Linked DNA regions of Homo sapiens: regions 1, 2 and 3 are each linked to region 4. The links come from fine-mapping of genetic effects on gene expression. A gene starts in region 4. Each other region holds a variant in brackets. All regions are shown on one strand. Distances are between the middles of the regions.

Region 1 (8,185 bases), 47 kb after region 4:
GTTGGAGATGTTCACACTGCCTACATTACTGCCACAAGGTAAGGAAAACATAAGCAGCCAGTTCTGCTCCTGAGCCCAGATACATTGTTGTTATTGTTTTTTGGGTTTGTTTTGTTTTTATCTTGGCATGTGAAGAGGTAAAATGGCCACCTTTTGTCTATCTTTACAAAGTAAAACCAACATGCTAAACAGTTTGAAGTGTGGACTTTTCCTCTGGGCTTCCTGACTCATGAGTCTGCTTTATTACCATAGGAAAAGAGATAGGATCAACGGACACATCAAATTGATTTGTTATTTTTGTGATGTCTCTTGTTTTGTAGCTTTGAATAGACAAGGTTAAATTCAGATAGATTACAGTGTAGTTCCCTTCACTGACAAAATTATAAAGACAGTTTTCTGGATAAAAAGGTATGAGAAAATAGATACTCTTTCCTTGTTTTAATGACAAATATATCAGGTTAGCAGTTTTGCAAATATATAATTATAGAGCAGAAGAGAGCCGACAACCTCCAAGTACTTTTATGTTTTTATAAGAATCTCTATACTACCATGGGTTTCTTTTAATATGTCTCTAAGTTAATTGATTAAAAATTAATCAAGGCATTACAGAAATATTTTACCCACTATCAGTCATTTAATACTCAAGTATTTCTAGGGAGACAAGTGTTTTTAAATCATTTTTATCACCTACTAGCTTCCGCAATATTAGTTGAGCATTTAAATTTTATTTTGCTTTTCATAATTGTTCATAATTTTAAAAAAACAAAATTAATTTATGGTACAAGTGATTTCTCTTCTTTTTCCAAATCTAATAGTTTCCACAACCTTTGCTGATGAAAGAGGAAGGCTGAAAGATGAAATCATTCATAAGTACCTGTATGAGTTGGAGCACGCTCTGTCCTCTGCAGTCTTGGGCTTTCAAAGTAACCAAATATATGGCTTCTGTAGTCAAGTGCCATACATCTGTAGCTACCTTCTTCCTGAAGAAGTATGTCAACACTTAAGTGTGCTCTCATTTATCTTAGCAATCAAGATTGATACATTATACTGATTAGATGTGATCCTCTTGACCACTTTAACAGAATAGTTCAGTTAACAAATGCCTTCATTTTATTAATATAATTCCCTTGAGCTAGATATATAGTGTTATTTGTTAATCCATCATACAATATATTTGAGCAACCTGATACTTGTGCCACATACATCATCTTTGTCAGATAAACATGCAGATGACACAATATTAGTTTAGTGCCTTAAAAAACAACCTAGCATTAGGAAATCTATTCTACATATGCCAAGGGCTACAAGGTAGATGATTTGATTTGCAGTGGAACTTTGCATCTAAGCCATAACCAAAATTACAAAAAATAATTAAACTGTGTTTCTGACATTTTTTCATTACACTCTCTTCAGACTTCTCATGCATTGTGTCACCTCCTGCTGCACATAATGGCCCAGTACCCTCCTGCTTGCTGCCCCTTGACCTGTCACTTTCCCTTGATGTCTGTCTACCCACTTTGATAAGGTCTGCCTTCCTTCCTCTAAATTCTTCAGTCAAAGCTCTTCTTTGACAGAGTAGCCAGGACTAGACACAGAGAAGGAATAAATGATTAGTGGCAAGAGAGATTCAAGAAAAGTTTCATGAAGGAAGCAATATTTGATCTGGACTTTGAAAAGTAAGTCAGATTTAGACATGGAGAGATATTGCATACAATTTTGGTGGGCAGCGCTCATATAGGGAGGTAGGGCAGGACTGGTGGGGATGGAGTAGAGTAGGGCATTCCAGACAAAAGGAAGGACACGTGCAGAGGCTTGGAGGTAGGAATGCATGAAACATACGGGGAATATTGACTACATTATTTTGACTTAAGCATGAAGATATGTGAAAATGATTAGTAAAAGCAAAGATTATCAGTGTAGGCTAGGATTTTTAATGGCAAGTAAATAAAGAAGACTTTACTTAGTTGGCAGAAACAAACTTTTATTTGCAAAAGTGGGAAACATGATGCAAACGCAGGTGTCCACTTTATCCTATATCCATTTATTTACAATGACAATGTTTGCACTTTATGCCATATCATTTTATTTACAATGACAATATACAACAGGCATGTATATCTGCAAACCCAAAGGTGCTGTTTACCTGATCTTTTCTATAATGTGGTTATTTTCTTTGATTGGCAGGAACATACCGGTATCTACATTCTTAAACCATACAAAAAAGTACAAAGCAGACAGTATGGACCTGGACTGCTCTATCTGTCTTCACATGGATTGTGGCTCATAACAATAGCTAAATGTGGAATTCTGTGTATCCGAGACGTTTATACTTTGGTAAGCTGCTTTCTTAAAAAAAAATATTGTGGGTGTATATATTGATCTCATATAGGAAACATTTTATATGTATATAAAAATTTGCTTATATATGCATAAAAACTCTGAAAAGATATTGAAGGTACTAATTACCTTGCTTGCCATTGGAAGTATTAGGTCATGGGAACAGGAAGGAGATTTCACAGAATACTCTTTTATAATTTTTGAATTTTGAACCATTTGAATGTATTGCCTATTTAAAAACCTAAATGAGAAAAGGCATCATGGTTGAGAACCAGTATGACTCAGAAATCTCAGTTTTTAAATTGTTGCCCTATATACCAAATTGATGATGCATTTTGTTTAAGTTCTAATCAAACTGGCTTAGTTAGCATCCTTCAGAGCATGTTATCTTCCATTCTTCACAGTGCCCGTCACCCTCTCTCATTATACTCAGCTACTTCACACATAAATAGAACCTCCCTGACTCTTGAAGCCATCGGAACTCACCATCTCTGCTTGCTGAAGGCCCCTTCCCTAGCTTTATAGACTTCTGCAATCCATTCACTTCTCTGTGTCTGATTTCCTATTATAAATTGGTGATAATAATCCCTGTCCTTCCATACTACACAAAGGTAGTGGAAGAACAAATTAGTATTGGTGAATGTGGTTTGAACTGGGGATTTTAAATACTATGTATTGCCAATTGCCTACTTCCATACCAATTAAAATGCTGTTAGCAAATAGAAAATGATTTATCCACAAAAAAGGGGCATATAACCCCATTAGAAAAGCCGTGTGGTAGAATTGCATTTGTAATTTTTCTGGTTTATTTCTTAACTATTGAGGAAACATTTGCTTGGTGTCGGAGTCATTCTCACCAGGGTCATGGGATTCAGTCAATGAGAATTTCAATGGATGGACAAAACATTCTGGTGAATGGGAGAGATGATGGCACCCTTGTCTACCTAAAGTGGAAGTACGTACAGTATTCAGTAAGTAACCCCATGTAGTATAGTGTGTTAAAATAGAGATTTTATTATTATTTAAGTACAGCAAGGCCAACGTGCTGGGAGACCACTGCCAGTGCAAAGAAAGTTTGTTATACTCACAGATCCCAAGAGAAGCGTACACTGCATTCTCGGGTACCACATGGGGCAGACCTGGGGTGGGTCAGGAGGCTGAGAGAGGGAGGAAAACGTGGATGAGATCCTCTAGTATGGTTTTCACAGGGAGGATTGGGCAGGTTTAGGATTGGCTAGTTTGAATATTATCAGTGGGTTCTGAGGCATAGGAGCTGGCTGTAGTTGTCTCATACTTGGCCCTGGGGTGATTAGGGTGGGGAAATGGTGGCCCCGATTGTGAAAGCCCACTAGAGGAGGTGGTTGGGGGTATGGTCTCTGGATTGATCGGTTTGCTTTTGAAAAGCGTGTTCCAGAGCAAATTGTTTACTATCTTCAGAGACTGGCTAGCCTCCAGAAGTCAGCAAGGCCCCAGATATCAGAGCATCAAAATACAAAAAAAAAAAAAA[AG/G]ACATAGTTAATATTTATCTGAGAGTGATCAGTCCTATCTCTCATAACATAAGAAATGTGGACAATTCTGACCCTCAGATAACTTTAAAAACTCCTGTTTATCCCTGACATATACATGTATGTATATATACACACACTTTCCTAATTAGATTTTGCTTAGATTATATCAAAGACAGTTTCAGTCCCCAAACAAGGAGGGGATCCGTTTTAGGGAGGTACTATTATCATCCTTGCTTCCAAGTTAAACTATAAACGAAATTCCTCCCATGGTTAGGAGGAATGAACAAGAACATCCAGCCTGTGAGACTAGAAACAAGATGGAGTCAGCCATGCTAGACTTCTTTCACTGCCGTAATCTTTGCAAAGGTGGTTTCAATCATGCAATTCATTTTAGAAAAAATAATATTTCGTGATACCTCCTGTGATCAAAGCAGTAATAAAATACGGCCCTTCTCTGCAACATTGTGAAAATGTTAAATGTTGTGGAGATTTTGTATCATAACAATTTTGCTAGCCACTTACCTCAAAAACTCATTTGAGGATTGCATCATCATGCCCATTTTATACATGGGATTCTGAATAGAATATTAGCTTTTATCTCACTATGTAAGTCCTAACATATTGTTTATAACCAGCGAACAAATACTATCTCAGGCAACAACAAACAAGTGCTGGAGCCTTATTTATGCAGCTCAAAAAGAAGGACATTTTGATCCATTGGTAATCACCCAAACTTCTGACTCAAAACAAAGCTGGGTTTAAAACGATGGTCTAGGCCAGGCGCAGTGGCTCACGCCTGTAATCCCAGCACTTTGGGAGGCTGAGGCGGGTGGATCATGAGGTCAGGAGATCGAGACCATCCTGGCTAACAAGGTGAAACCCCGTCTCTACTAAAAATACAAAAAATTAGCCGGGCGCGGTGGCGGGCGCCTGTAGTCCCAGCTACTCGGGAGGCTGAGGCAGGAGAATGGCGTGAACCCGGGAAGCGGAGCTTGCAGTGAGCCGAGATTGCACCACTGCAGTCCGCAGTCCGGCCTGGGCGACAGAGCGAGACTCCGTCTCAAAAAAAAAAAAAAAAACGATGGTCTAGGACTTTTGACTTTGTGACCTTGGCAAATGACAACCCCTCTAAATCATCTGTTACAATGTTACTTAAGGTAGGGGGTCTGTAGCATCTGTGAGCTTGTTAGAAATGCATATTCTTGGATCCCATCTGGACTTTCTGAGTCAGAATGTCTGCAAGTGGGGCCCAGGAATCTGTTTTTAAACCCTCCCAGTGATGCTGATGCGTCCAAAGTTTGCAATGCCCTGGTGAATTAAGTGGAAGTAATAATACCACTCTCAATGCAGGGTGGGGTGATGAGGGGGCCACATGTGATTATGTGTGTGAAGTAGCACACTGCCTGGTGCATTCCGAGAGCTCAGCCAGTGCACTGGCTCTTCTGTGCAATGACCAGGGCAGGTACAGAGGGCATGTTGAGTAAGGGTATGAGGACAGTGTGAGGAGAGGGTACCCTAGAAAGGTCAAGAAGCTTGTCATGGCCTGGAACCCATGAAAGGGTCTCCTGTAAGAAGCAGAGTCCTTTAGCCATGCATGGTGGTGTACCCCTGTAGTCCCAGCTACTCTAGAGGCTGAGGTGAAAGGATCATTTGAGCCCAGGAGTTCGAGGCTGCAGTAAGCTGTGATTACATCACTGTACTCCAGCCTAGGTGACAGAGCAAGACCCTTTCTCTTTAAAAAATAAAAATTAAAAAAAAAAGAAGAAATTCTGCAAAAGAAGTAGGCACTGAAGAAGTTTCCACAAGGCACTGTGAAGAATTGTCCACATATTTCCTTGGTTAGTTACCTATAAACTGAAATGGTTAGTTACCTGAAAATAATACAGCTAAATGTGATTTTTTAAATTATGATTTTTATAGCCTCTGTGTTTTCTTTTTTATTAATATAGGCGATTTGGAGGACACCTAGCCAGTGAAATTCTGGACTATTACCAGAAACTATTAATTTCCCTGAGCAGCGCCATGGACAAGGAGAATCATTATTTAAGCACAACACCAAAAGTTTCCGTAGATTTGGGATCCGATTCTGAACACACAGTTGAGTTCCTATATGACTAGCTTGCTTGCTTACATTTCTTTCTTTGTAAATCAGAAGTTTTCGGTTTGTGGTTTTCTTTAAGCAGATATTTAGTAATATTTCTCTTTATCCAGGTATCCCATGATTTTCAAAAAGGGAATAAGCTACGTCTGAGAGAAAATATTCAGCCTTTCTCAAAGCAATTGCAAATAGTACATTTCAGATCTCATTTAAACCATAGTACAAGATCCAGGCTTGCCTGGAAAAAAAAATCTTCTACCCACACTTGTGCTTGGTCAAAATGGTCTCTCTATACTTTCATATTACAGATATTATTTAGGAAGTGTCTAGCTAAAGAACAGTATTCACTCATTCAATTAACAAATATTTATAGAGTGCCTACAGAGTGCTAGGCTGTGGGGGATATAGCCATGAACAAGAAAGAAAAATTTCTGCTTCCATGGAGTTTACATCCTAATTGGGGGTTGGAGATGGGCAGGGAGAAACAGATAAACAAGCAAATGCAGAAGAAACAATGAGATAGTAACAAGTTCTATTCAGTGAATAAAAATAGGTTGATGTGATAGTATTGGGCTGGATAGCCTCTCCAAGCAGACATTTAAGCTGAGATCTGAATTAAAAGAGAACACCACCATGCAAAGACAATGGGAGGGTAGCAAGAGTATTCAGGGCAAAGGGGGAAAGAGCTTGGCGTGTGGTATGTTAGGACCTAAAAAAGACCTGTGCAGTTGAAGCGAGCTAGGGAGAAAGTGGTGGGAGGTGAGGTCTTCAAAGTGGGAGGAGACCAGGTAACGAAGGGCTTTGTAAACTAGGTAAAGAGTTTGAATTTTATTTTACATGTAATGAGAACTGAGTCAGGTGTTCTGAACACAGGATTAACAAGGTATAGTTGACATTATTGAAATGACTATTTGATGCTATGAGGAGAATGTTTCCTGTAGGTGATAAGAAGGATCAGAAGCAGGGACATTGCTCAGGAGGCTAAGGCAGAGGTTCAGGTAGCAATGATGGAGGTGGAGGAGTCTTGTGCCAAGGAGAGAAGTGGTGGATTCCAGGTGGGTTTCAGAGGTAGGGTTGATAGAACTCACTGATGAATTGGACATAGAGAGAGAGGAAAAGAAAGGGCCCAAGAACTCCTAGATTGTTTTACTTGAACATTTATGTAGAAGATGGTGTCATTCATGGAGATGGGGCAGACTCTGGGGGAAGGGGGCAGCTATGAAGAGAAAGAAGGGAATTCAAAATCAGTTTTACCCACATTAAGCTCGAGAAGCCTGTTAGACATCCACGTGAAGATGCCAGTTCAGCCATTGGATAGATGAACCTTGGGTTCTGGGGAGAGGTCAGGACTGGATATGTTGATTTGAGTCAAGGGCATGCGGATGGGATTTAAAGCCATAACACTAGGTAAGGACATCATGGAAGCATGAATGGCAAGAAGCAGAAGAGGACCAGGACAGAGCAACTTCTGGAGAGGCAGGAGAAGAGTTCAGGGATGCAGAGGACCCTGAGGAGGGGTAGCCAGTGAGGTTACAGGAGAACCAGGAGAACATGGCATCCCAAACTCTTTCAAGACATTTTGCTGCAAAGGGGAGCATAGAAACAGGGTGGTGGGCCGGCGGGGACGGTGGTTGGCACACACCTGTAATCCCAGCACTTTGGGAGGCCGAGGTGGGCATATCACGAGGTTAGGAGATCAAGACCATCCTGGCTAACATGGTGAAACCCTGTCTCTACTAAAAATACAAAAGATTAGCCAGGTGTGGTGGCACGCACCTGTAGTCCCAGCTACTCAGGAGGCTGAGGCAGGAGAATGGCATGAACCCAGGAGGCGGAGGTTGCAGTGAGCCAAGATCATACCACTGCACTCCAGCCTGGGTGACAGAGCAAGACTCCGTCTCAAAAAAAAAAAAAAAAAAGAAATAGGGTGGTGTCTGAAGAAGAATGTGATGGTCAAGTGAGAGTAGTTTTCCTAAGACAGGAGATAGTAGAGCATGTTTGGATGCTGTTGGGAAAGATCCTGTAAAAGGGAGAAATTGATGATACAGAAGGAGATGGCATTGAAAAAAAATTGTGTTAAGTATTAAGACTTCAAAAAGAAGAAAAAAGATCCTAAGCATAGATGGTGGCACAGGCCCTGATGGGCAGGAACATTTGGGTCACAGTAACAAAGAAGGCAAAGAGTGGTGACAGTGTGACTGGTCTGATCATCTCTGCTTCCTCAGTGGAAGCTGTGGCTACT
Region 2 (8,185 bases), 99 kb after region 4:
TGATTGAGGCACTAAAAACTGTTTTCCATAGTAGCTGCACCATTTCATATTCCCACCAGCAAAGTATGTGGGTTTCACTTTCTCTACGTCCCTATCAAAACTTGTTATTGTTTCTCTTTTTTGTTGTTTGCTTGCTTGCTTTTTAATTACAGCCATCTTAGTGGGTTTATTCTTGATGTAAATTTCTCTAATGACTAATGACATTGAGCATCTTTTCATATGCTTGTTGACCATTTGTATATCTTTGGACAAATGACTACTGAAGTCTTTTGCCCATTTTCAAATTAGGTTTTGTTGTTGAGTTATAGGAGTTTTTTATATGTTCTGGACATTAAACCCTTATATAATTTGCCAATATTTTATCCCCTTCTGTGGATTGTCTCATGTTTTTGGTGTTAAATCTAAGAATCAGGCCGTGTGCGGTGGCTCATGCCTGTAATCCCAGCACTTTGGGAAGCTGAGGTGGGATCACCTGAGGTCAGGAGTTTAAGACCAGCCTGGCCAAGATGTGAAACCCCGTCTCTACTAAAAATACAAAAATTAGCCGGGCATGGTGGCAGGCACCTGTAATCCCAGCCACTCAGGAGGCTGAGGCAGGAGACTCACTTGAACTCGGGAGGCGGAGGTTGCAGTGAGGCGAGATGGCGCCACTGCACTCCAGCCTGGGTGGCAGAGTAAGACTCTGTCTCAAAAAATAAAATAAAATAAAATAAAATAAAATAAAATAAGTAAATATCTAAGAATCAAATCTGAAGTCATGAAGATTTATCCCTGTTTTCTTTCTTCTTTTCTTTTCTTCTTTTTTTTTTTTTTTTTTTTGAAATGGAGAAATGGATTCTCGCTCTGTCTCCCAGGCTGGAGCACAGTGGTATGATCTTGGCTCACTGCAACCTCCATGTCCCGGATTCAAGCGATTCTCCTGCCTCAGCCTCCTGAGTAGCTGGGATTTACAGGCGCCCACCACCATGCCCAGCTAATTTTTGTATTTTTAGTAGAGACAGGGTTTCACCTTGTTGGCCAGGCTGGTCTCAAACTCCTGACCTCAGGTGATCTGCCTGCCTCAGCCTCCCAAAGTGCTGGGATTACAGGCGTGAGCCACTGTGCCTGGCCTCAGTCCCTGTTTTCTTCTTTGAAGTAGGGAAATGTTAGCCATCCAACTTTTTGTTTTCAATATTGTTTTGGCTATTCATGATCCTTTGCAGCTTCATATGAATTTGAGGATCAGGTTTTTCCATTTGAAAAAAAAAAGCCATTGAAATTTTGGCAGTGATTGCATTAAATCTATAGATTCCTTTGAGGAGTACTGTCTTAAGTCTTTTGATCCAAGAACATGGGATGACTTTCCATTTATTTAATCTTTATATTCTTTCAGTAATATTTTGTAGGTTTCTTTGTACACACACTTTTTAGATAAACTTTATTTCTAGGTTTTTTCTTTCTGATATTATTGTAAATGGAATTGATTTATTAATTCTTTTCCAGATTTTTCAGTGGTGATGTATAAAAATATAACTGATTTTTGCATATTAATCTTATACTCTGCAACTTTGCCAAATTTATGTATTATCTCTAGTAGGGTTTTTGTGGATTCTATATGACTTTCTCTATATATATAGACTCATTAATCTGTGAATAGAAATTGTTTTACATCTTTTCAGTTTGGGTGCCTTTTATTTCTTCTTCTTGCCTAATTGCCATGACTAGAATTTTTATTACAGTGTTGAATCAAAGTGACAAAAAGTGGGACATCCTTGTCTCGTTCCTGATCTTAGTTGGAAAGCTTTCAGTCTTTTATCATTGAGTATGAAGTTATGATGGGTTTTCTGTAAATTCCCATTATCATGTTGAGGAAGTTCCCTTTTATTCCAAGTCTGTTGCATATATTTTTTTTAATCATTGAAGTGTGCTGGATTTTGTCAATTTTTTTTTTCTACATCAATTGACATGATCATGTGAGTTTTTAAATTTGTTCTGTTAATGAGGTATATTATATTGTTTGATTGTGCGGACTACTCTTGCAATCTTAGGATAAATGACACTTGGTCATAGTTATAATCCTTTCAATGTGCTGCTGGAATCAGTTTGCTAGTATTTTATTGAACGTTTTTGTCTTTGTGTATGTATTCATAAGGGATATTGGTCTGTAATTTTCTTGTGATGTCTTTCTCTGGCTTTGGTATCAAGGTACTGCTGGCCTCATATAATATATTAGAAAGTGTTCCCTCCTCTTCTATTTTTTGGAAACATTTGAGTAGTATTGGTGTAATTTTTCTTTAAATGTTTGATAGAATTCATCAGTGAAGCCTTCTTGTCCTGGGCTTTTCTTTTTTGGGAGGTTTTTGATAACTGATTCAATTATTTACTTGTTTTAGGTCTATTAAAATTTTCTATTACTTTTTGAATTGGTTTTTATAGTTTGTGTGTTTCTAGGAATTTTCTATTTCATCTAAGTTACCTAATTTGTTGGTGTAGAATTTTCATAGTATTCTCTTATAATCCTTTTAATTTCTGTAATATTGGTAGTAATATTCTTGATTTCATTTCTTATTTTAGCAATTTGAGCCTTTTTTTTCTTAGTCAGTCTAGCTAAAGGTTTGTCAATTTTGCTGATTTTTTAAAAGAACCAACTTTTGGTTTCATCATTGACTATTGTTTTTCTGTTTTCTTTCTTTCTTTTTTTGAGACAGGGTCTTGCTCTGTCACCCAGGCTGGAGTGCAGTGGCATGAACACGGCTCACTGCAGCCTTGACTTCCTGGGCTCAAGTGATCCTCCTGCCTCAGCCTCCTGAGTAGCTGGGACCACAGGCGTGCACCACTATTCCAGGCTAATTTTTTGATTTTCCGTATAGTTGAGGTCTTGCTCTGTTGCCTAGGCTGGTCTCAAACTCCTGAGCTTAAGCATTCCTCCTGCCTCAACCTCCCAAGGTGGTGGGATTACAGGCATGAGACACCACACCCAGCATCAGGTGGGAGGACAATGAATAGGGATACAAATGCATACAGGTTGGTAGATTGGGTGATGGCAAAAAAAAGTTCCTGCCTAATTGTTGACATATAAAGTAAATTGGCTCTGCTATTTAAATGTATCTTATAATCCCTTCTGTTTAGTGACTATCATGCTTTATAGTGATCAGATTTTGCCCAAGAAGCCATTTTTAATGTCTGTTTCTTAAAAAGAAGACAGAATTATCTCTGTGACCCAAGTATTTTCTAAAAATAGCATTCAGCCTCAAATATTCTATGTTCTATATGCAGAATCATATTATATGGATATCTAATGTACTTTTTTAAAGACTCAAGGACAAAAGAAAGTTGCTAGCATGATGGAAAGTAAAGATGTACACAAAAGAATACTTCAGATTGAGTGGGAACATAAGAAAATGGAGATGGAAAGGGAAGATCTAAATCAGAAGGCTTGGGATATTCAGATGCTATTTTTTTCAAGAGATCGTCAAAAGGTAAATTCTCCCTACCCCCCTACATAGTTTTAATTTTATTCATTAATGTATTCATTCATTTAACCAGTATTTAATAAGAAGCCTCTGTGATATCAAGCATATTCTAAGCCAGGAGTGTTTCAAAATATATCTGTGAGTTATTTTTCTTCCAACAGTTTACATTTGCAGCCTCCAGTTCTTCATGACCCATTTAGTAGAATCATTCTACTCAGAGCTAAGGATTTCCTGTCAAACCCGGTGGTCCTTCAATTCTCTGTAGCATTTAACCATCTTAATTTCTCATTCCTTTGGCTTTCATCACCCCAAATTAATTTTGCTTCCAACATGTCATACCACTCTACCTCTTTTACTGGATTCTCTTTTGCCTCTAACACTTCAATATAGCCGTTCTTCAAGATTTTGCCCTTAGCTATGTTTGTGTTTCTTTCCATACCTCTCCCTGGGTGATGTCCTCTGTTTTTCTAACTTCAACGATCACTCCTACAAACTAATCCAAGTTCTGTGGATTCCAAGCCATGCCCCATTTCTATAGTTTTCACCTCCCAGCAGCTCTTCTTAGTTTGCCTTTTTTGTACATCCCAAATCTACTTTTCAAGGTCTAGTTTAAATACCACCTTCTCCTTCATAAAACCTTTCTTGATTTTCCAAGCCTGGAGAAATTCCATCTCATTACAAACCACCTTTGAATTAGCATGACACTCTACATGGCTTCTGGCAACCAATCATATCTATGTGATCATTTTCCCATGAAGACTAGGACATGTTATCTATCTTTGTATCTCCCTCAGTGTCTTTAACTAGGACTTTGTTAATGTGGGACTCAAGTGGAACA[ACAC/C]TTAAATGTTTGGTGAGTTGAATAAATGAATTAATGAATGAGAAAATAAAGTAGGCATTTGTAATAATTGGTGCTTTGATGTAATAATTAGTGTACATGAATGTATTGATGGCTAAATACAGGGAAATATTATGGCACAAAAGCCAAATCAATCTTTTTTTGTTTTTTTTGAGATGGGGTTTTGCTCTTTTTGCCCAGGTGGAGTGCAATGGTGTGATATCCGCTCACTACAACCTCCACCTCCTGGGTTCAAGCAATTCTCCTGCCTCACCCTCCCGGAGCAGCTGGGATTACAGGCATGTGCCACCACGCCCAACTAATTTTTTGTATTTTTTAGTAGAGACAAGGTTTTACCATGTTAGTCAGGCTGGTCTTGAACTCCTGACCTCAGGTGATCCACCTGCCTCAGCCTCCCAAAGTGCTGGGATTACAAGCGTATGCCACCACGCCTGGCCAAGCCAAATCAATCTTAACTTGCATAGATATTTGTTATGAAAAACAGTAACTTTCAAAGCTAAAACAACCTTTATAAAGTCATCTATTGAAAGAGAGAAAAATATCCTTACATGTTTTTTTTTAATCTCAAAGTACCTAAATGAACCAAACTATGAGGCTCTGATTAGTATTCAGATTGGAATAATGGAACAAACCATTGCTGTTTTAGATAAGGTAAGTCTCAAAGACGTTGGTTATTATATCCTAACAGTTGTAAATCATTTGAGCAAAGTAATAGTGTTTCAAATCATGAATTTACCTAGACCCTAATAAAATCTTGGTTATTTACTAGTATTCATGAGGTAATTAAAAGTCCCTAAGTAGTATCTTTGCAACCGCAACTAATGAAATAAAATTAAGCACTTCCTTTAATATTAGAATTAACCCCTGGGGACATATCTGAGTGTAAGTGGATTTTCTATTTTACATTAGGTTAGGATTTATGTAATAGGAGTGTTGGTAGTCTTTCCTTGGCATTGGAAAGGTTTTATTTAATCATCACTGAATAAAAATGGTCAGTTTTTATTATGTAGCATATATTAGAAACAAAGCAATCTCAAGCTTTTAAAATATTCTCTCAGTTTAAGAATATACAAAATGTTTTTTCTAAAATTTGTTATTAACATACCATTCTACCTTTCAACAAATAACTCGAGTGCCTACTATGCCAGGCACTACAGATATGGCGGTAAGATGTTATCTTAATGATGATAATGTATTTAAAATATAAGAATAATGTCTTTATAGGATAAATTACATTTTTCAAAATTAATTTTGTGGGGTGTCATGGGAACAAAAATTTCAGATGCACAAAAAGAATGTGGAAAACTGCAAGAAACTACTCAAAAAACTTGGAAAGTTCAGCAATCAAAAAGATATAGCAAATTATGCCCTAAGCTGCAATCTACGAGAAGAGTTGGTAGCTGTCTCAGAGAGAAAAGACATCTGTAATGCAATGGGTAAGCATGCTTTTTTTTCTTTAACCAACTGTAGGTTTCTTTAAAAGTAATCAGTAATCCTAAAATGTATACAACAGTTAAAAAGCTATCAGCATTTCTTTAAAAATACATTGTTTAAAATAATTTCAACTTTTATTTTAGATTCAGGGAGTACATGTACAAGTTTGTTACTTAGGTATATTGTGTGATGCTGAGGTTTGGGGTACGGAATGATTCCGTCACACAGGTACTGAGCATAGTACCCCATAATTTTTCAGCCCTTCCTCCCTCCCTGCCTCCTCCCTCTAGTAGTCCCCAGTGTTTCTTTTCTTTTTTTTTTTTTTTTTTTTTTTGAGACAGGGTGTCCCTCTGTTGCCCAAGCTGCAGTGCAGTGGTATGATCTTGGCTCAATGCAACCTCCACCTCCTGGGCTCAATTGATCCTCCCACCTCAGCCCCCTCAAGTGCCTGGGACCACAGGCAGGAACCACCATGCCCGGCTAATTTTTGTATGTTTTGTAGAGAGTAGGTTTTGCCATGTTGGCCAGGCTGGCCTCGAACTCCTGAGCTCAAGAGATCCGCCCACCTCAGCTAACCAAAGTGCTGGGATTACAGGTGTGAGCCACCACACCTGGCCTCCAAGTGTTCCCTGTTACCATCTTTATGTCCATGAGTATCCACTGTTTAGCTCCCATTTATAAGTGAGAACATGTGGTATTTGGTTTTCTGTTCCTGTGTTAATTTGCTTAGGATAATGGCTTCCAGCTACATCCATGTTGCTGCAAAGGACATTATTTCATTCTTTTTTTTATGGCTGTGTAGTGTCCCATGGTGTATATGTACCACATTTTCTTTATCCAGTCCACTGTTGATGGGGCACCTAGGGTGACTCCATGTCTTTGCTTTTGTGATAGTGCTGCTGTAAACATACAAGTGCATATGCCTTTTTGCTACCAGCATTTCTTCCACATGTATGATTCTGAGTGCTGCTTCTGTATTTGAAAGTATTGATAAATAATCGAATTCCTTTATTCATTTTTGGGATAGGGTCTAAACTGACTTGTGAAAAGATTGTCAAAGAACGGTATGAAAACATGATGCAACAGCAGAAGTTAACAAATATTTCAAAACAACAAGCTGAACAGATTTCAATACTACAGACTGAAGTTGAAAGATTAAGAATGAAAACATTTCCTGCTCTTGTTCAAATGTAAAAACGCTGGCAGGAAAACACAAGGCCAAATCAATCATTTAAAAAATCATTTCATTTGGGTAAAATGATTTCCTTTTCTTTCTTACTGGGAAATTGAAGTAGCATGTCCTCTGAGTTGCATGTTTTAGATAAAAAATTGTTTAATTTTAGCCTTAATTGTATACAAATTTTTGTCCTGCATGAATAAATGTGTAAAATACCATGAATTGCTGTTTTTATTCAAGAATAAACAAGACTTGAAGTCAGAAAGTATTCAAGATCTATTTTACTCATTTAATCTGAGTTGGATCAAAGATATTTTCATAGTTATGGTATAGAAAGTCTTAAAAAGAAATTCTTTGCCAAACTAGCATTTCTAATTTTATGAAACTGTCAGAAAAGTTATGAGATTATGGGTAATTTTTATCTTTATGCTCTTCTGTTTCTCATTTTCTTCAGTAAGCATTTCTTTCATAATCAGAAAAAAATTACGAGAGTATTTAGATTATTCTCTGCTGCACCAATGAGAACAAGACAAATTGTTAGAGCTTTTTCCAAGCCTTGTATCATTTGTAAATTACAACATATTTTGGCCAGACACGGTGGCTCACGCCTGTAATCCCAGCACTTTGGGAGGCCGAGGCATGTGGATCACGAGGTCAGGAGATCTTGACTAACATGGTGAAACCCCATCTCTACTAAAAATAAAAAATAAAAATAAAAATAAATTAGCCGGGCGTGGTGGGTGGTGGCAGGCGCCTGTAGTCCCAGCTACTGGGGAGGCTGAGGCAGCAGAATGGTGTGAACCCAGGAGGTGGAGGTTGCAGTGAGCCGAGAATGTGCCACTGCACTCCAGCCTGGGCAACAGAGCGAGACTCCATCTCAGAAGAAAATTACAACATACTTTAGAGACATAATCTACATTTCTTTTATGTTGTAATAGAAAATTCAATTTTGTGCTTTACCCAATAGGGTTTAACCAACAGAAAAATACTTTCTTATTTCCATGAAGTAGTTTATCACTTTTAGATGGTGATAATTATATAATGAGATGAATAATTGGCCATAAAACTGCTTTGCCCTTCCATAACCTGTGGACTGCTGTCCACAGGGATCATGGACCACAATCTCCAAGTGATGTCACTGTCTCACTGTTCTGCAATTTATGAACTCAACGTTAAGTTTAATCCTCAGTACCATATCCAATATACACTGATGTAGATAAAGCAAGAGAGCTACTATAAAATCTTCTGTTTAGCAAAATAAAT
Region 3 (8,185 bases), 57 kb after region 4:
GCTCCCCATCCCCACTATAGCACACATATAAATCCGTGCTTGGAATACACACTATGATAGTTATTTGAATATTCTTCAATGCTGAGCCACATGGTATATTATTATTACATTTCTGCTTTTACAACTTGATTTTTCTTAGAATTAATAGTTGCCTTTGTTTTGGGTAAGCCCTTCTATGACCTATTCAAACTCAAAATGCTAACAAATTCTTCTCAATACAATCAAATACCTGAAGTGATCAATCTGTGAGTGCATTTTTTGGGCAACCTCCCTTCTAGAGCTTTCCATCCTCCAGCTCCAGTCAAAGCACCTTGCTCTTGCTCTGTAGACCAGGTGTATGGCTGCCGTCCTAGAGATCTGCCTTCTAAGTCAGAGCTCCTGTTTCCTGAGTCCCACGTGATTTTCTTTGTTTTCTTGGTGTGTATTCTTCAGTAGCTTCCTATGCAGGACTGCTGTGTTGTGCCATGCTTGGGAACATCCTTTATAAAATCTGTGCTTCTGGGGTGCCATCCAAGTGGAATCCACTGTGAATGATGCCCTGCTGCTAGACCTGTCAGATGCTTTGGCTCTGTTCTTGAGAAAGGGTACATGAGAGGTACATTTTGTGAGATGTGGTTTTTCTTAAAATGTGATTATCCTACATTCATAACCATTTGATGGTTTGCCTTCAGAATGTTGAAGGCTTTCTCCATTGTCTCCTGGCTTCCAGTGTTTCCTTTAGAGAATCCAGTGCCTGACTCCCAATTCTTTGTAGGTAACCAGATTTTTATCTTTGGAGACTTATAGAATCCTCTCTTTATCCATAGTGTTTGGAAATTTACAGTTATGCACCTTGATATGTTCGATGAGTATTCTAGGTTTGCTGGTACAAACCAAGACTCTCTTCCCTTTTCCACTCTTCTTTGAGCCCCAAGAGGCTGGCCTTTATGGACAGTAGCAATGCACTCTCTTGCCTTCTGGCTTTCTCTTGGGTTTAGGCAATAAGTAGCATCAGCAGGAGAACCCCATTGTTGCTATTCATGAAGGCCAGCCTCTTGGGGCTCAGATTGCAGGGCAGAAGACTAAGACCAGGGTCCTCATTCTCCCAGTTTCCTCCCTGTAGGGTTATGAGTTGGCAATGACCGCCATCCTTCTCCTACATTTATGGGTCTCTCCAGGTTCATTAACCACTCCCAGCCTTTGCCCTTCAGACCTACGAGCAGAGATGGCTTCCCGAGCCCGCAGTTGGTAGCCTAATGCTTTATCATGTGTTGCTGGCTCTCCTTACTCTGCCAAATCTTTTTTTTTTAAGTTTCTCTCTTCAGTTTTCCCATTTGAATGTGTTACTTTTTCCTACCAGGACCCTAGGTGTTTTCTTCTTCCATGTGCTAGACTTCGATGGGCATTTTAATAGGAAACCTTTGTCTCTTGGTTTTAGAAAAAGTTCTTAAATCATTTCCTTGGCCTTTGTTTTTATTTTCCTGATTACTAATAAAGCTGAGCACCTTTTCATAACTCTAAACACTATTTGTATTTCTTCTCTTGTGAATTTCCTGTTTATATTCTTTGCCTATTTCCTTATTGGATAATTGGTCATTTTCTTGTTGATTATAGGAGTTCTTTATTTTTATTTTTTATTTATATGTATTTATGATAATTAGAGTTAGCTAGCCTATGGTAACAAACTCAGAAAAACATAGTGGCACAGTGATGAGAAGGTTATTTCATTCCCATGTAACCATCCTGGGTGGGTATTTAGCTCAGCAGCTGCTCTGTTCCATGCAGTCATTCAGAGACCCAGACTGTTGGAGACCCTGCTATCTTCAACTCAGGGCTTCGAAGATTGCCTTGCTTGATCTCATTTGAGTCAGTTGGAAAGGAGAAGAGCGTGGAAGTGTGAATGCGACATATCTAAAGGTAGCCCTTATTATTAGGTGGAACTTCATGCAATTGCTGTTTTATGTGGCTCAACCTACAAATATTTTCTAGAAAAGTATATGGCTCATCCTACTCTAAATACTTTCTTTTAACTTTTATAATGTGCCAAATTTTAAATAATTTTATTATAAAGCAGAATTTTAAAACTATGGCATGATCCAAGTTATTGATCATTTTCTTTATAACTTTTGGGTTTTACCTCTGATTTTAAATGACCTTTCAAAGTCACACATATTTTCTTCTAATGCTCTTTGATTTCATCTATAATTTATTTTTGTGAATGGTATGACATATAGTTCTAATTTTATTTTTTCAAATAAATAGCCCATTTCCCCAGTCTGTTTTATTTAATATACTATCCTTTCTCTGCTGATTTGCAATGTCTTCTCTATCAATCCCTGGATATAGGATTGTTGCTGGACTCTGTTCTAAGATTGAATATTGATTTTTCTTGAGCCAATACCAAGCTATTTTAATTACTATCACTTTATAATAGTTCTTGTACCTTGAGAATAATTCTCCTTTTGCCCTTCTTTAAAAAAAATTGGCCTTTTTATGTGTACTTAATTTTCCATTGGAATTTTAAATTCAGCTTGTCAATCTCCATGAAAAACTCTGATTTGATTTTGATTGAGAATATATTGCTTATAGTTTGATTTGGAGAAGAATTTATCTGCCAGCTCTGAACTTTAGTATATATATAAGTATGTATGATAAAACTTTACTGAAGAATATTTTTTAAATTGAATTAAGATATATACAGACAGTCCCCAACTCACAGTGGTTCAACTTATAATTTTTCAACCTTATGATGGTGCAAAAGCAACGCACATTCAGTAGAAACTTGGGCGTGGTGGCACATGTCTGCAGGCTTATTTTGATCTTTTCCCAGAGTAGCAATATGCGGTACCATACTCTCTCACAATGTTGGGCAGCAGCAGTAAGCCACAGCTCCTAGTCAGCCATGCAATCACGAAGGTAAACAATGAATATTCTGAAGTGTACTGTGTTGCCAGCATTTTTTGGATATCGTGTTTTATGTTTTCACAGCCCATCATGTCTACAAATGCCCCTTTTGACATGATATTTTCATCTTACCATGGGTTTGTTGGGCCATAACCCCATCATAAGTTGAGGAGCATCTGTATATTTATATATTTACATCTTTCATTTATTTATTTAGAGACAGGATCTTGCTTAGTAACCCAGGCTAGAGTGCAGTGGCATAAGCGTAGCTCACTGCAGGCTTGAACTCCTGGGCTCAAGCATTCCTCTCACCTCATCCTTCCAAGTAGCTAGGCCTGCAGACATGCACCACCACGCCCAAGTAATTTTTGTATTTTTTTGAAGAGACAGGGTCTCCCTATGATGCCCAGGCTGGTCTTGAATTCCTAGCCTTCTGCCTTGGCCTCCCAAAGTGCTGGGATTACAGGCATGAGCCACTGCACCAGGCCTGTATATTTATTTCTTTTAAAATATATAACTTTTAAAGTTATATTTTCTTTTTGGTTTTTTTTTGTTTGTTTGTTTGTTTGTTTGTTTGTTTTAGATGGAGTCTCGCTCTCGCTCTGTCGCCCAGGCTGGAGTGCATTGGCATGATCTCGGCTCACTGCAAGCTCTGCCTCCCAGGTTCACGCCATTCTCCTGCCTCAGCCTCCCGAGTAGCTGGGACTACAGGTGCCCGCCACCTCGCCCAGCTGATTTTTTGTATTTTTAGTAGAGATGGTGTTTCACGGTGTTAGCCAGGATGGTCTCAATCTCCTGACCTCATGATGCGCCCACCTCGGCCTCCCAAAGTGCTGGGATTACAGGCGTGGGCCACCACGCCCGGCCAGTTATATTTTCATTAAATATATAATACTTACATATGTGTATATTATATATTTATTTATCTTTATTCAATTTTAAAAAGGTAATCTCCAGTGAAAGTTTATAGTTTCTCTGAAAGTGACTTTAAATTTCTTATTAGGTTTATTTTAGGTATCTTATAGTTTATACCGTTTTTGTGAATGGAATATTTTTCTATTGCATTGGTGATATGGTTTGGCTGTGTCCCCACCCAAATCTCATCTTGAATTGTAGCTCCCATAATTCCCATGTGTTGTGGAAGGGACCTGGTGGGAGATAATTGAATCATGGGGGCGGGTCTTTCTTATGCTATTCTTGCAGTAGTGAATAAGTCTCAGGAAATCAGATAGTTTTAAAAAGGGGAGTTTCCCTGCACAAGCTCTCTTCTCTTGTCTGCTGCCATGTGAGACATGCCTTTCCTTTCACTTTCTGCCATGATTGTGAGGCTTCACCAACCATGTGGAACTGTAAGCCCATTAAATCTCTTTCTTTTGTAAATTGCCCAGTCTCAGGTATGTCTTTTTCAGCTGCATGAAAACAGACTAATACAATTGGTATATGTTATATATTGGTATATATTATTGGTATATGTGAATGTTACTGATTTTTTTCTGACCACCTTGTTGAATTCTTTTTAGTTCTACTATTTTGTCACTTGATTGTCTTAGATTATCTAGGTAGACTATCATATCTTTTGAAAATAACATATTTCTCTCATCAGTCTTTATACTTCATTTATTTTTCTAGTCTTATGATTCTTTTTATGAAATACAATATTTTGCATCCCTAGTTACTGTAAAATTATACCCTTCTCACTCAATTAACTTTTCTTTTGGGCAACAAGTCTTCTATTTGTTGAATTTATTGTCTCTCTCCAGTGGTCTTGTTGTTCCCCAAATATTTAGTGATTTATTGTTATTATTTCATGGTTGTCTTTATAATTGAAACTCCCTGTTATAGTTCCATGACACCAGGTCAGTCTGCTTTGGAAGAAGTGTAGGAGATCTGACTTTAGCAGGTATTCTGTCTGCTCTCAGTAAAAAGTGAAGGGGTGGGTGGTGTTGGGAAGTGTCTTGGCATCCCATTGTGTGGTGGGGGTGGTTCTCTATTCTTTCTAGCCACTAACAGATTCCTTGGGCCTTGCCCTGTTTCTCCCATCCAAATATTCATTCCAGTTTCTTCTACCTGGAGACAAACACTCCAGTTACTACTGCTGGACCCTAGGGAACTTCACCAGGTAGGGTTACAGGCAGGTTCTACTGTCTGTTTCTGATGCAGCACCCCCAGCTAATCAACCTGCCAGCACTCTTAGGTAAACCCTTGTTCCTGTATCTGGTGTAGCTTCCACTCGTTGTTGAGTGCTGTGCTGAGGGCATTC[A/G]GGGCTGTGATGCATCCTGCTGATCCATCTGATTTCCGTCTTTCAGTTGTTATAGTTTTCATGCTCCTGAAGGATTCTATTCCTTTTTTCCTCTTCATTGTAGTAATGGGTTTATCTATGCTATATACTTCTTTTCTCTTAACTTTATATTTTGGGGCAAAAAAGAAAAATTGTTAAACTCATTCTCAGTCTACCATTTTGAAACTGAAGTCCCATTTTTTTCTATCATTTGTCTGCCTTGTTTTTATTTGTAAGTGCTTTTTATATATTAAAGACATTAATATTTTGTCATATGTGTTGTAGTGTGTATCCTTTGCTCCTGAATTTTTTTAAGTTATGAACTTTTAAAGATAATTTTTATTGTATAGAAGTTCAAATTTATACAAAATTGGAGAGAATAATATAATACATCCAATGGCCAATATCATTTCACCAATGCTTCCATCCATTACCCCTCCCCTGATTATTTTGAAGTAAATCCCAAACATCATATCATCTTTAATTATTTCAGTATGTATCTCTAAATGATAAAGACTCTTAAAACACATAACCACAATGCTGTTAGTGTACCTCAAACTAGCAACAGTGCTTTAATATCATTGAATGAAATGATGAGCTTATATATTTTTGTAGTTTTCCTTATTAAATGAAAGAGTTTTTAAGGATGAAACCTTAAAACTTCAATAACCACAATAAGCCCATAATCTAATTATTTACTTAGTAGTACATTTTGATAAATAGAACATCTATTTTTTATTGATTGCTGCCTAAAAGAAACTAAGAAAATTATCTTATTACAGTTTAATTCTTTACTTGTCAGCACTCTTTTTTATTTCAACATTCAGATTCTGAATATGATGGAAGAAAATGACAAACTAGAAAATATTGCAAAATTAGACCAACAGGAATTTGGTCTGGATCTTGAGGAACTAGAAAGGCTTCATGATGAAAGTCAGGAAGAAGTGGCAAAGGTATGAAAAAGTATAATTTAAGCACCATAAAGTTATGATGAAAGAAGTAAAAAGATAATAGGAATGGGAACTTTTTCATAATAATGTGAATATGACAAAACCTTTTTCAGTATAATGTGAATAAAGCAAACATAGTGCATATAAGTATAATGAATCAGAGGATCATCGAATTTGGGGGTTAGGAGCAGGGAGAACATCTAGGCCAGCCAGACATCTGACATTTGCTTCCCCTCCATGACATTCGTGCCAGCCATACGTTTGAACATTGTTGGAAGTCTTCTCAGCCACCTCATGCCAACTTTGGACGCTTCTGGTTTAGTAAGCCCTTTCTTAATTAGAGTTGAAATCTTTCTTCCTGTACTCACTGATCCTTCTACTCTTTGAGCACTTCCTACTCTATGGCCCCTCTGAGAGTGGTAGAGGATTAGAAATTTCCATGTTCCCTGTGGATCTTCTCCTGTCTGGGCTAATTATCCCAGCTCCTATGACCATCATATATTATAGTTTCAATAGCCTCGTCATCATCATGCCGTTTTCCTCTGGATTAATTATATTTGCATATGGTACCCACAGAAGAATTCAAATTATTTTCTGTCCAGTGTAGAGAAAAGCATAAACTGAAACCTCCATTCATACTATACTTCTATTAATTCAGCCTTTGTATTATTTTCTGGCAGTCACATCAAATTGTTTGCTCATATGGATTTTATTTTAAATAAAAGCCCTAAGTGTGTTTTACACAGGATATTCTGAAGCTACCTCTTTCTCAACCTGCTAGTACAGGTTAATTTTTTGAATGTGCAAATATAAAAACACAGGAGAATGCAAGATAGCTGGATTCAAGGACAGTTAAGGTGGATTATAATAGATTAAACAACTACACCAAGAGGAGGTTGATTATTTGACTGATGCCTCTAGGAGGGAGGTTTCCACCATGTACCCCAGGACTTGGTCCTGATAAACATGTTTATTAATGACTGGGGTGAAGATATAGAAATGAGGAGATTTGTCAAATTAGTGAATGACATGAGACTGAGAAGGTGAGGAAATGTAGTGGATAACAATTAGGACAAGAGTATCTCAACAGACTGACTTAGTACAATAAAATTTACCTGAGATAATCATTCCTTCATTCATTCTGCAACATTTATTAATGTGCTGGGCATATTAATCTAGGTGCTGGGAATAGAATAAAGAAGACAGACACATTTCTGCTGTCATGGGGCTAATGTATTGAAGAAGACAGGCCGTAAACAAATCTCTACATAGTATATGATGGAAACAAACTGGATGCTGTGATAGATGTGGGAGATCTACTTCTGTGGTCAAAGAAAACCACTTCAAGGGCTGACATTTCAGTTGAGAACTAAAGGGAGAGAGAGATCTGGCTGTGCAAAGATCTGAGGGAAGAGAATGTCAAGCACAGGGAGCAGCAAGAGCAAAGGCCCACAGGCAGAAATGGCTTGGAGTATTCCAGGAACAGCACACCAGAAAGGCTGAAGCATCGTGGATGGGAGAGAGCCTAATGGAATGAGGTTGGGGAGGTAGGCAGAGGCTAGCCCTGACGAGCTTGTATATTGCGGTAAAGAATTTGGCTTTTTTATTAACTGTGCAACAGGAAGCTATGAAAAAAAATCCCATTTTCTTATCACAAGAGGTAGGCACCAATCTAGGAGCTTTTTAAATGTTATTTATTTTGATCATCACAATCAAAAGAGGCAGGTGATAGTTTGCCGCACTTGAAAAAACTGAGGCTTAGATAGAGGCTTAGAGAATTAGAGTCACTTGGCTAAGATCAGAGCCAGGAAGATCCTGACTCTTCCTCCTTGGCTCTGGTTTGGCTCAGGCTCGGAATGCCCCCTGCTATTCTGCACCAAGTTCTCCCAGCCCACTCATCTTGACCACTCAGCAATGTGTGTGGGTTCAGTGCCTGCCCGCTTCCTCACTGTATCTTTGCTTCTCTCTCCAAGCTGTATACAACTACTTGACACAGTGAACCTGCTCCCCTGGCCCACTGAACTATTTACCATTGCCAAACTCATCCTACCTACCCCACCGCCACCCTGTGCCT
Region 4 (8,185 bases):
CCAGTTTCTCATTTTTACTAAAGACAAATCATGGTAAGGCTGATTTGCTTTGTTATACTTGGCCTGATTATTTGTATAAAGTGCAACAAAAATAATTATTTTTCACATAGGCTCTTTTTAAATTAGCTTTGATGGAACTCTGCTCTATAGAAGTAATCTTAGACAAGACTTTGTAAAGCCAAGCTCGGCCATGTGTTTGTATCCTCAAATATCTATGAGTTGAGTAAATTCCTGTTCTCTTGAGGTCCCAAGATAACTTAGGACTCCTGGACCTGCCAGAAAGTGACATTCTTTACTTACCACAGGTCATTCTTTACTTACCTTTACAGGGACAGTTGCAGACAAGATCTGAGGCCAATTCTCCAAGTGGCTTTTATTGGCTTTACAAGTCAAGTTTGATTCCTTAAAGGAAAGCACACCATTCCAGTTAAAGCCGTGGTGAAATAACCAATTTATCCAATTGTGTTCTGCTACAAAAGAAAACAGATCCTTATTGCATGTATGCAAATAACTATATTGCCATAAATTAAGAATACTCACAAATAGTTTCCAAATTTTGGAAAAATCAGGTAGAGAGAAACAAATATACTCCAAATTTTGTTCACAGAAGTATACTCAATTGCTAAAAGCTGTAAATAGCTCAAAAGAAAAGTTTCCTTGACTCTGATATTCATGAACATTCCAGCTCTACATGAGGGTTCTGAAAGTTGTTTCCTCTATTCTAATGTTACAATTTCCAAAGTTATTGGAAACCTGCATTTGGGAACACCTGCTGGAGTTCTACAGTTGATTATAAACCACCTTCTAAAGAGGATTAGAACAAGAAAACAATTGTGGATGATAAAAAGTTTTAGGATAGCCACTATTAAAGCCACAATTGATAAGGAAACTTGGTTACCTATGTGGCACACAAAATTTTACATAACAATTATAATTATTAATAATCTACACTAAGTCATATTAGAATTATAAGAGTTTCTCATAACTTTGTAACATATACCAATAACACATTTATGCAAATATAGTCCAAAAAAAGCAAAAAACCATTTCATATTTGGCAATGCTTCCTATATGATTTTTATAGCAAATAAGCCAAATTTTACCTTTACATTAATGTGCTATTAATGTTAAACCCAATTTTTAATAAAACCTTATAGACATATTTACCCAATTTTAATGTTAACCATAAGGTAAGAGTCTTATAAACCTCGTATAACCCTTTACAATTGTGTGTGTGTGTGTGTGTGTGTGAAAGAGCAGATCAACTCTAAGAAAAACCTGTTGTGCTTTTATTCCAATGTTTAATTTATCGAAAAACTGAATAATACCCCTGTAACTTTAGCCAGTATGTTCACATACAGAATCTCTTACAATTAATTTTTATAAACCTTCCACAACTTATTTAAACCTTTAGTTTTTTTTTTTACTTAAAGCAATCCTTTAACACTTAAATGTAGGCAGAGAAAAATCCACATTCCCATTACTTCTTATAATCTTTCACCAAAAACACATTTTACTTTCTTTACACACCTTGCATGTAAAACTGTTTCTTTAGTAGTTTTAATTACATGTTATAATGTTAACTTTTTGCAACTTTTATTTTTGGTGAAAACCTTGGTAAGTAAGAGATTTTAATTGTGTACTAGGTGTGGAGCCTAGCCTAGGACACAACAGGCAGAAGTGCAGATAACAGCTGACTCTCTAGCATAGCTAGAGGGCATAGCTAACTCCACATGTCCACAGGGCTCACCCTTACTTAAGCAGGCAAGTTGTACAGTAAGAGTCATAGGGCATTGTATGAAGCATTTAGGAGGCCTAACAATCCGTGAATTGTACAACATTTCTTGCATAAAATCACTTTCATAAATCCTTTCACAACTTACACAGACCATCTGAGACCATGTGGATATCTAGCCCAACTCCCTGGATCCCACCAGTCTCTAAGTTCCAAGAAGGAAGAAACTTTATTTGTTTTTCTATTTTTTCCAAGTGACTAGCACATGCATGAATGCATGCGGGATGCTCTGTAAATATTTGTGAAAGAAATGGAGAGAAGAAAGCAAGACAGGAAGGAAAGACCTAAAGAAAGGAAGGGAAGGGTAGAGAAGGGAAGACGACTGAAGGGAAAGGAAGAAGGGTAAGGGAGGGAGTCTAAGGGAAGGTATGGGAGAGAAGAAGGAATGACAAGCTGCCGACCATTCAATCAGGTTACTTCCAGAGCTGTCTGCTTCCCTGAGGAAGCAAGAGGGTACATTTCAAAGTGTTATATGGTACTTAAGGGCTTGGAGCTCTAAATTAGCTAGACCTGCGTTTAAGTCCCACTCAGGGCTGGGCAAGGTGGCTCACGCCTGTAATCGCAGCACTCTGGGAGGCCAAGGCGGGCGAATCACTTGAGGTCAAGAATTTGAAACCAGCCTGGTCATCATGGTGAAAACCCGTCTCTACTAAAAATACAAAAAATTAGCTGGGCATGGTAGCACGTGCCTGTAATCTCAGCTACTTGGGAGGCTGAGGCAGGAGAATCGCTTGAACCCAGGAGATGGAGGTTGCAGTGAGCCAAGATCAAGCCACTGCCCTCCAGCCTGGGCAACGGAGTGAGACCCTATCTCAAAAATAAATAAATAAATAATATAAATAAATAAAGTCCCACTCAACTTTGTAGCCATGGACAAATTATGTGCTTCTCTTTTCCTCACGTTACTTATCTGTAAAATGGGGCTGATGGGAGATGTGAAGACGTTGCAACAATGTTTGGCACAGTCAGCACTCTAAATGAAAGTCTGTTTAGAAATTTATTGATTTTTAAAAATAATTATTTATTTAGAGACAGGTCTCGCTCTGTCGCCCAGGCTGGAGTGCTGTGGCGTCATCCCAGCTCACCGCAGCCTTGAACTCCTGGGCTCAAGCGATCCTCCCACTTCAGTCTCCCAAGTAGCTGGGACTACAGGCGTGCACCACCATGCCCGGCTGCTTTTTAAATTTTTTTGTAGAGATGCGGCACGGGCGCGGCAGGTTTCGCTATGTCTTCCAGGCTGGTCTTCAACTCCTAGCCTCAAGCGATCCTCCCGCTCTGACCTTCGAAAGCGCGGAGATTGTAGGCATGAGTCTTACTTGCAATTATTGGCCCGGACCTGGGGAAATTTGTTAAAATGCAGATTCTGATTGAGTAGATCTGGTGTGGGAGCCAAGTTTCTGCATTTATAACAAGCTTCCCAGGTAGCACCAATGTTGCTGGTAAACAGACCACACTTTGAACAGCAAGGGGCCCGCCCCTCGCTTGGCTTGCCGCTCACCCATTGGCCGAGAGCGGCAGACCTTCCACCAATCTGCTCGGCTCAGAAGGGAGCGGGCCAAAGCGCAGAGCCAATGGGCGCGGGGCTTACGGTCTCCGGGATACGGGTGTACACAGCAGCGGCGTCGCGGCCCGCAGCCCCGCGGCGGCGGAAAGGTAACCGACCCGCCCTGGGGTGCTGCGTGCGCTGCCTGCTCCCGCCTGAGGAAAACACTGCCCATGGCGCAAGGCCGGGAGCGCGACGAAGGCCCCCACTCCGCCGGCGGCGCGTCCTTGTCCGTGAGGTGCGGTGTTCACGGCCCCGCGACCGATCTGGGTCTCGCGGAACCTCCTGCCCCAAGTCCCCTCCTCCCTCCTCTCCCTCCGGTTCCTTAGGGCGGCTTTCCCCGCAGCTTCGACCTCTTCCCCTCTGCCCCCAGTGCCTTCCCTCAGCCTCCCTCCCCGTGTGACCTCCCCTGTCCGCTCCCCATCCCCTTGTTCCTTGACCCCGTCCCCAGTTGTCTTTCCCACTCCTTATTCTGCGACCCTGACCCTCCGTCTCTTACCCAGCAACGTCCCCTGCACCCTTCATCTCTTCCTTCTAGCTCAGGATTCCCGCTAGTGATCCGGGTCTTCTGATCACATCCCCCTCCCCCTCCACCTGGCGACAGCCCGGATCCCGTCCTTGCTACCTTTGGTGATTTTCCCCAAAGTTAGGTCCCTGAATCCTTTCCTTCTAACTCCTATCCACTAGCTTTGGATTTATTTGCATTTATAGTAGCCTTTGAAAAGCATCAAGCACTGCGCAGATATAGGTGGCATTTTTTCCCCTACATTCTAGAGTGTTCCTCCCAGCCCCCACCTCCACTCTATACAGCATCCCCTGCTAGTCCTGGACACTCTAATGTCTCGAGGTTTCTCACCAAACCAGTGTCCTTCACTTGCCTTTTCCACCATCTTCAAGCATACCTTTAATATTTAAATAAAAATAGAATCTCCTTCATCTCCTCTCCTTTCTAGCATACACCTAGCACGCACTCCTTACTTGAGAGTATGTTCTTTTTGTGTGCTAGCCTTTCATTCACGTCGACTTCATTCCTTTTATTTTCTACGTTTATCTGTATTTTTAAATCTAAAATATGGCCACATACTCTTCATCTGTGTAAATAAGCAATTTTCCTACTCTGCTAACAACCACAAAGCAGGCTGTCCTATGCAAAGTTGTTTTTTAAAGTTTATTTAAAAAAATCAAACTAATTATAAAAGAATGGCCCAGGATGCCACTGTGTTGAGATCAAGCTCTTTTCTCTGTTATTTTCACTTTTTGTCTTCCAAGTATAGAAGACCCCAGAAGTCCTTCTGAGACTTTCTCAGGTTTGGTCAGAGAGTTTCCTTTGCTGAAAAAGTTATCTGAAGAAGGCCTGGGAGACCTACGGAACTTTAGGTCTACATTTAAATTTCTATAATTCATTGACTCAAATGGATCTCACAGCCAGCATGTGTGTTCTTTTATCTTAGAAATTGGGGGCAGAAAGGACATGAAAATAGAAATGTTTCAAAGATTTTGATGACCCTTTGCTTTGTTAAAAAAAAAAAAGTATTTGAAATGTATTATATTGATGTTGACATATCTTTTCCCAAAGATGGGTGCAAGGATTCCCTAAGCAGAATGTTCATTTTGTCAACGACAACACCATTTGCTACCCTTGTGGGAATTATGTAATATTTATTAATATTGAAACCAAGAAAAAGACTGTACTGCAGTGTAGTAATGGAATTGTGGGCGTCATGGCAACTAACATCCCCTGTGAAGTTGTGGCTTTTTCTGACCGGAAGCTAAAACCTCTCATCTACGTATACAGCTTTCCAGGATTGACCAGAAGGACCAAATTGAAAGGTATTCTAGAGAACCCTTCCTCTGCCCATAATTGAAGGATTTTGTTTAAAGAGTTGACTAAATCTATTATAAGTGAAGATTTATTTTTTGAAAGGTTTTTTTTGTTTGTTTTTTGTGTTTGTTTTGAGATGGAGTTTTGCCCTGTTGCCTAGGCTGGAGTGCAGTGGTGCGATCTTGGCTCACTGCAATCTCTGCCTCCCAGGTTCAAGTGATTCTCCTGCCTCAGCCTCCTGAGTAGCTGGGATTACAGGTGCGCACCACCACGCCCAGCTAATTTTTGTATTTTTAGTAGAGATGGGGTTTCACCATGTTGGTCAGGCTGTTCTCCAACTCCTGACCTAGTGATCCGCCTGCCTCACCCTCCCAAAGTGCTGAGATTACAGGCATGAGCCACCACGCCTGGCCCCATTTTTTTTTTTAATATACATTTTTAAAGAAGGAATCAAGCTGATCACTGAGGATTTAAATTATGTTAGCTAGAGCCTTGCTGTTCAAAGTGTGGTCTGTTTACCAGCAACATTGGTGCTACCTGGGAAGCTTGTTATAAATGCAGAAACTTGGCTCCCACATCAGAGCTACTCAATCAGAATCTGCATTTTAACAAAATTCCCAGGTGATTCATATGCACATTAAACTTTGAGAAGCACTGGGCTAGAAGACTATTGCCTTTTTCAGAGCAATGACTTTTTTTTCTTTCCTAATATTTGTTGAAAATCCAGGTGAATTGATGTTTGTATAGCTTCTAAAGTCAAGTCTCTGAGCCTCAATTTCCTCATTCATGAAATAGGGATAAAGATGGTGTCTAATGTGAAGGCTGCGGTGATGATGATAGATGAAAATATATAATATGCTGTATGTGTATGTATGCCAAGTGCTCAATGTTGCCTACCATTTGAATTATTAGTGTTTATTTTATTTATTTTATTTTAACAGAGTCTGGCTCTATCACCCAGGCTGGAGTGCAGTGGCATGATCTTGGCTCACTGCAGCCTCCACCTCCTGGGTTCAAGTGATTCTCCTGCCTTGGCCTCCCAGGTAGCTGGGATTACAGGTGTGCGCCACCATGCTCGGCTTTTTTTTTTTTTTTTTTATGTTTTTGGCAGAGGATGGGGTTTTACCATGTTGGCCAGGCTGGTCTCGAACTCCTGGCCTCAAGTGATCCACCCACCTCCGCCTCCCAAAGTGCTGGGATTACAGGCGTGAGCCACTGTGCCCGGCCTAATGACTCTTTCTTAGATACAGCTGACCCACACTGAGCTGCTGCACGTCTGCTGGAGCCACCAGCTAATGATTCCTTCATTTAACACCCCATGGGCAGAAAGCTCATGCTTGAGGCTGGACTTAGCTCTGTAGTCTTAAGGGTCAAATAAGTGTTTGGATGAAGTCAGGGAACTTCACTATAATTTATAATACTTTGTTTGTGGTGAAATTTGCATTCTCAACAGTTTAAGACAATTTTCAAAACATAACCCATTCACATGTTGGGGACTATCTAGGTGGACTATACCCTTTATCTTTAAAATTTCCCCAGGTTGGTTATTTGGCTGTAGTTCTGTTTGAACCAATTGAAAGTTAGTTCAAACCAATACCCAGGAGTCTTACTGAATAATGATGCCCTAAAGGAATTCCCAGTAATACTAATCAGTAATATTAATCAGAGAGACCTGTTATCACTATTATTTAATATCAACCTGGAAGTTCTAGCCAATGCAACAAAATATAAAACTGAAAAAAATATAGCTATGGGAAAGGGGATGATGGATAATGCGATAGTCTGCTAGGACTAACAAAAGAATGCTCAGTAAGATGCTGGTTTTGAAATAAGTACCCATACAATTAGAACATATACATACTTAGAAATAATTCAAAAAAAAGTGTGAGTGACCTAGGGGAAGAAAACTACAAAAATCATTGATTTAAAATATTTAAATATATAGAAATATATTCCTGGATGGAAAGCCTGGTTATTATAAATATATTTCTGAGATTTGTCATAGAAAGTAATTTGTAGGTTTATCCTATGTTTTAGACAGCAAGGAGTACTCAAATGATTCCAAAATTCATCTGGGAAAATAAAACATAGAGAATGAGAATAATTTGAAAGAGAATGATGGCAAGGCAGAGGGTCATTTTAATATTATGGTGCCATAGTAATTAGAAGTATGGCACTGGTGCAGGGATCACCAAATCAGTGGGAGAGTTGAAGACTTGGGACAGAATCTAAAGTATATAAAAGCTGAGTAAATGAAGAAAGAGGCTACCACCAAAAAGAAGGAGGAAGAGAAGGAGGAGGAGGAAGAAAGAAGAAAAAATATAGATTATTCAACAGTGGTTAAGAAAACTGCATATTTTAACAAAAGTATCAAGTTAGATACTCATGGTCTATATCAGATGAAAAAAAGCATTAAATATAAATAACAAATCCACTTGAAAATAGTAGAAAATATGGGCCGGGCACAGTGGCTCACGCCTGTAATCCCAGCACTTTGGGAGGCCAAGGCAGGTGGATCACGAGGTCAGGAGATCAAGACCATCCTGGCCAACATGGGGAAACCCCATCTTTACTAAAAATACAAAAGTTAGTTGGGCATGGTGGCGCATGCCTGTAATCCCAGCTACTCAGGAGGCTGATGCAGAATCGCTTGAACCCGGGAGGCGGAGGTTGCAGCGAGCCGAGATCACGCCACTGCACTCCAGCCTGGCAACATAGCAAGACTCTGTCTCAAAAAAAAAAAAAAAAAAAAAAAAAAAAAAGTAGAAAACATGGTAGAATAGAGGAGTGATTCCAGGAAGGGGAAGAACTTTTCACACAAAACAAAAACTTAGAAAAGACAGACATATTTGATTGTATATCTGTTTTAAACTGATTAACATCAAAAACACCATGAAAAATTAAAAGGGAAATAATAAACCAGGTAAAATATTTGGAACAAATATGATCAAATATTTTCAGAGCATTAATGAAACAAGAACAAAACAAACAGCCTCTTAGAACAATGGAAAAGAAATTAACCCAG

Direction of the effects. Positions count from the first base shown, and alleles are read on the strand shown. Sizes are in standard deviations (SD) of each study's normalised expression. Not every link is listed here.
As copies of AG replace G in region 1, the expression in prefrontal cortex of the gene that starts at base 3,394 in region 4 goes down (moderate effect, 0.51 SD a copy in CommonMind).
With allele G in place of A in region 3, the expression in prefrontal cortex of the gene that starts at base 3,394 in region 4 is higher (moderate effect, 0.47 SD a copy in GTEx).

The links.
Region 1: its variant is fine-mapped to the expression of CFAP43 in prefrontal cortex (CommonMind, PIP 0.95).
Region 2: its variant is fine-mapped to the expression of CFAP43 in nasal epithelium (TOPMed, PIP above 0.99).
Region 3: its variant is fine-mapped to the expression of CFAP43 in prefrontal cortex (GTEx, PIP above 0.99). The same link has a PIP of 0.9 or more in adrenal gland.

What each region holds. Positions count from the first base shown.
Region 1 is chr10:104,180,123-104,188,307 of GRCh38, reverse strand. CFAP43 (cilia and flagella associated protein 43) reads left to right here. Exons shown (of 38, transcript NM_025145.7): 13 at 1-38; 14 at 816-988; 15 at 2,185-2,334; 16 at 3,162-3,292; 17 at 5,795-5,942. Among named protein-coding and RNA genes, the nearest start is that of MIR609, 35 kb to the left of the region's middle. The variant AG/G (reference allele first, on the strand shown) is at 3,845.
Region 2 is chr10:104,128,893-104,137,077 of GRCh38, reverse strand. It overlaps CFAP43 (cilia and flagella associated protein 43), which reads left to right. Exons shown (of 38, transcript NM_025145.7): 35 at 3,294-3,458; 36 at 4,882-4,962; 37 at 5,594-5,747; 38 at 6,773-7,190. The coding sequence ends at 6,939. Among named protein-coding and RNA genes, the nearest start is that of SFR1, 11 kb to the right of the region's middle. The variant ACAC/C (reference allele first, on the strand shown) is at 4,291.
Region 3 is chr10:104,170,339-104,178,523 of GRCh38, reverse strand. CFAP43 (cilia and flagella associated protein 43) reads left to right here. Exons shown (of 38, transcript NM_025145.7): 20 at 5,989-6,114. Among named protein-coding and RNA genes, the nearest start is that of MIR609, 44 kb to the left of the region's middle. The variant A/G (reference allele first, on the strand shown) is at 5,144.
Region 4 is chr10:104,227,573-104,235,757 of GRCh38, reverse strand. CFAP43 (cilia and flagella associated protein 43) reads left to right here and starts at 3,394. Exons shown (of 38, transcript NM_025145.7): 1 at 3,394-3,576; 2 at 4,915-5,168. The coding sequence starts at 3,512. RefSeq lists an enhancer at 3,273-3,567.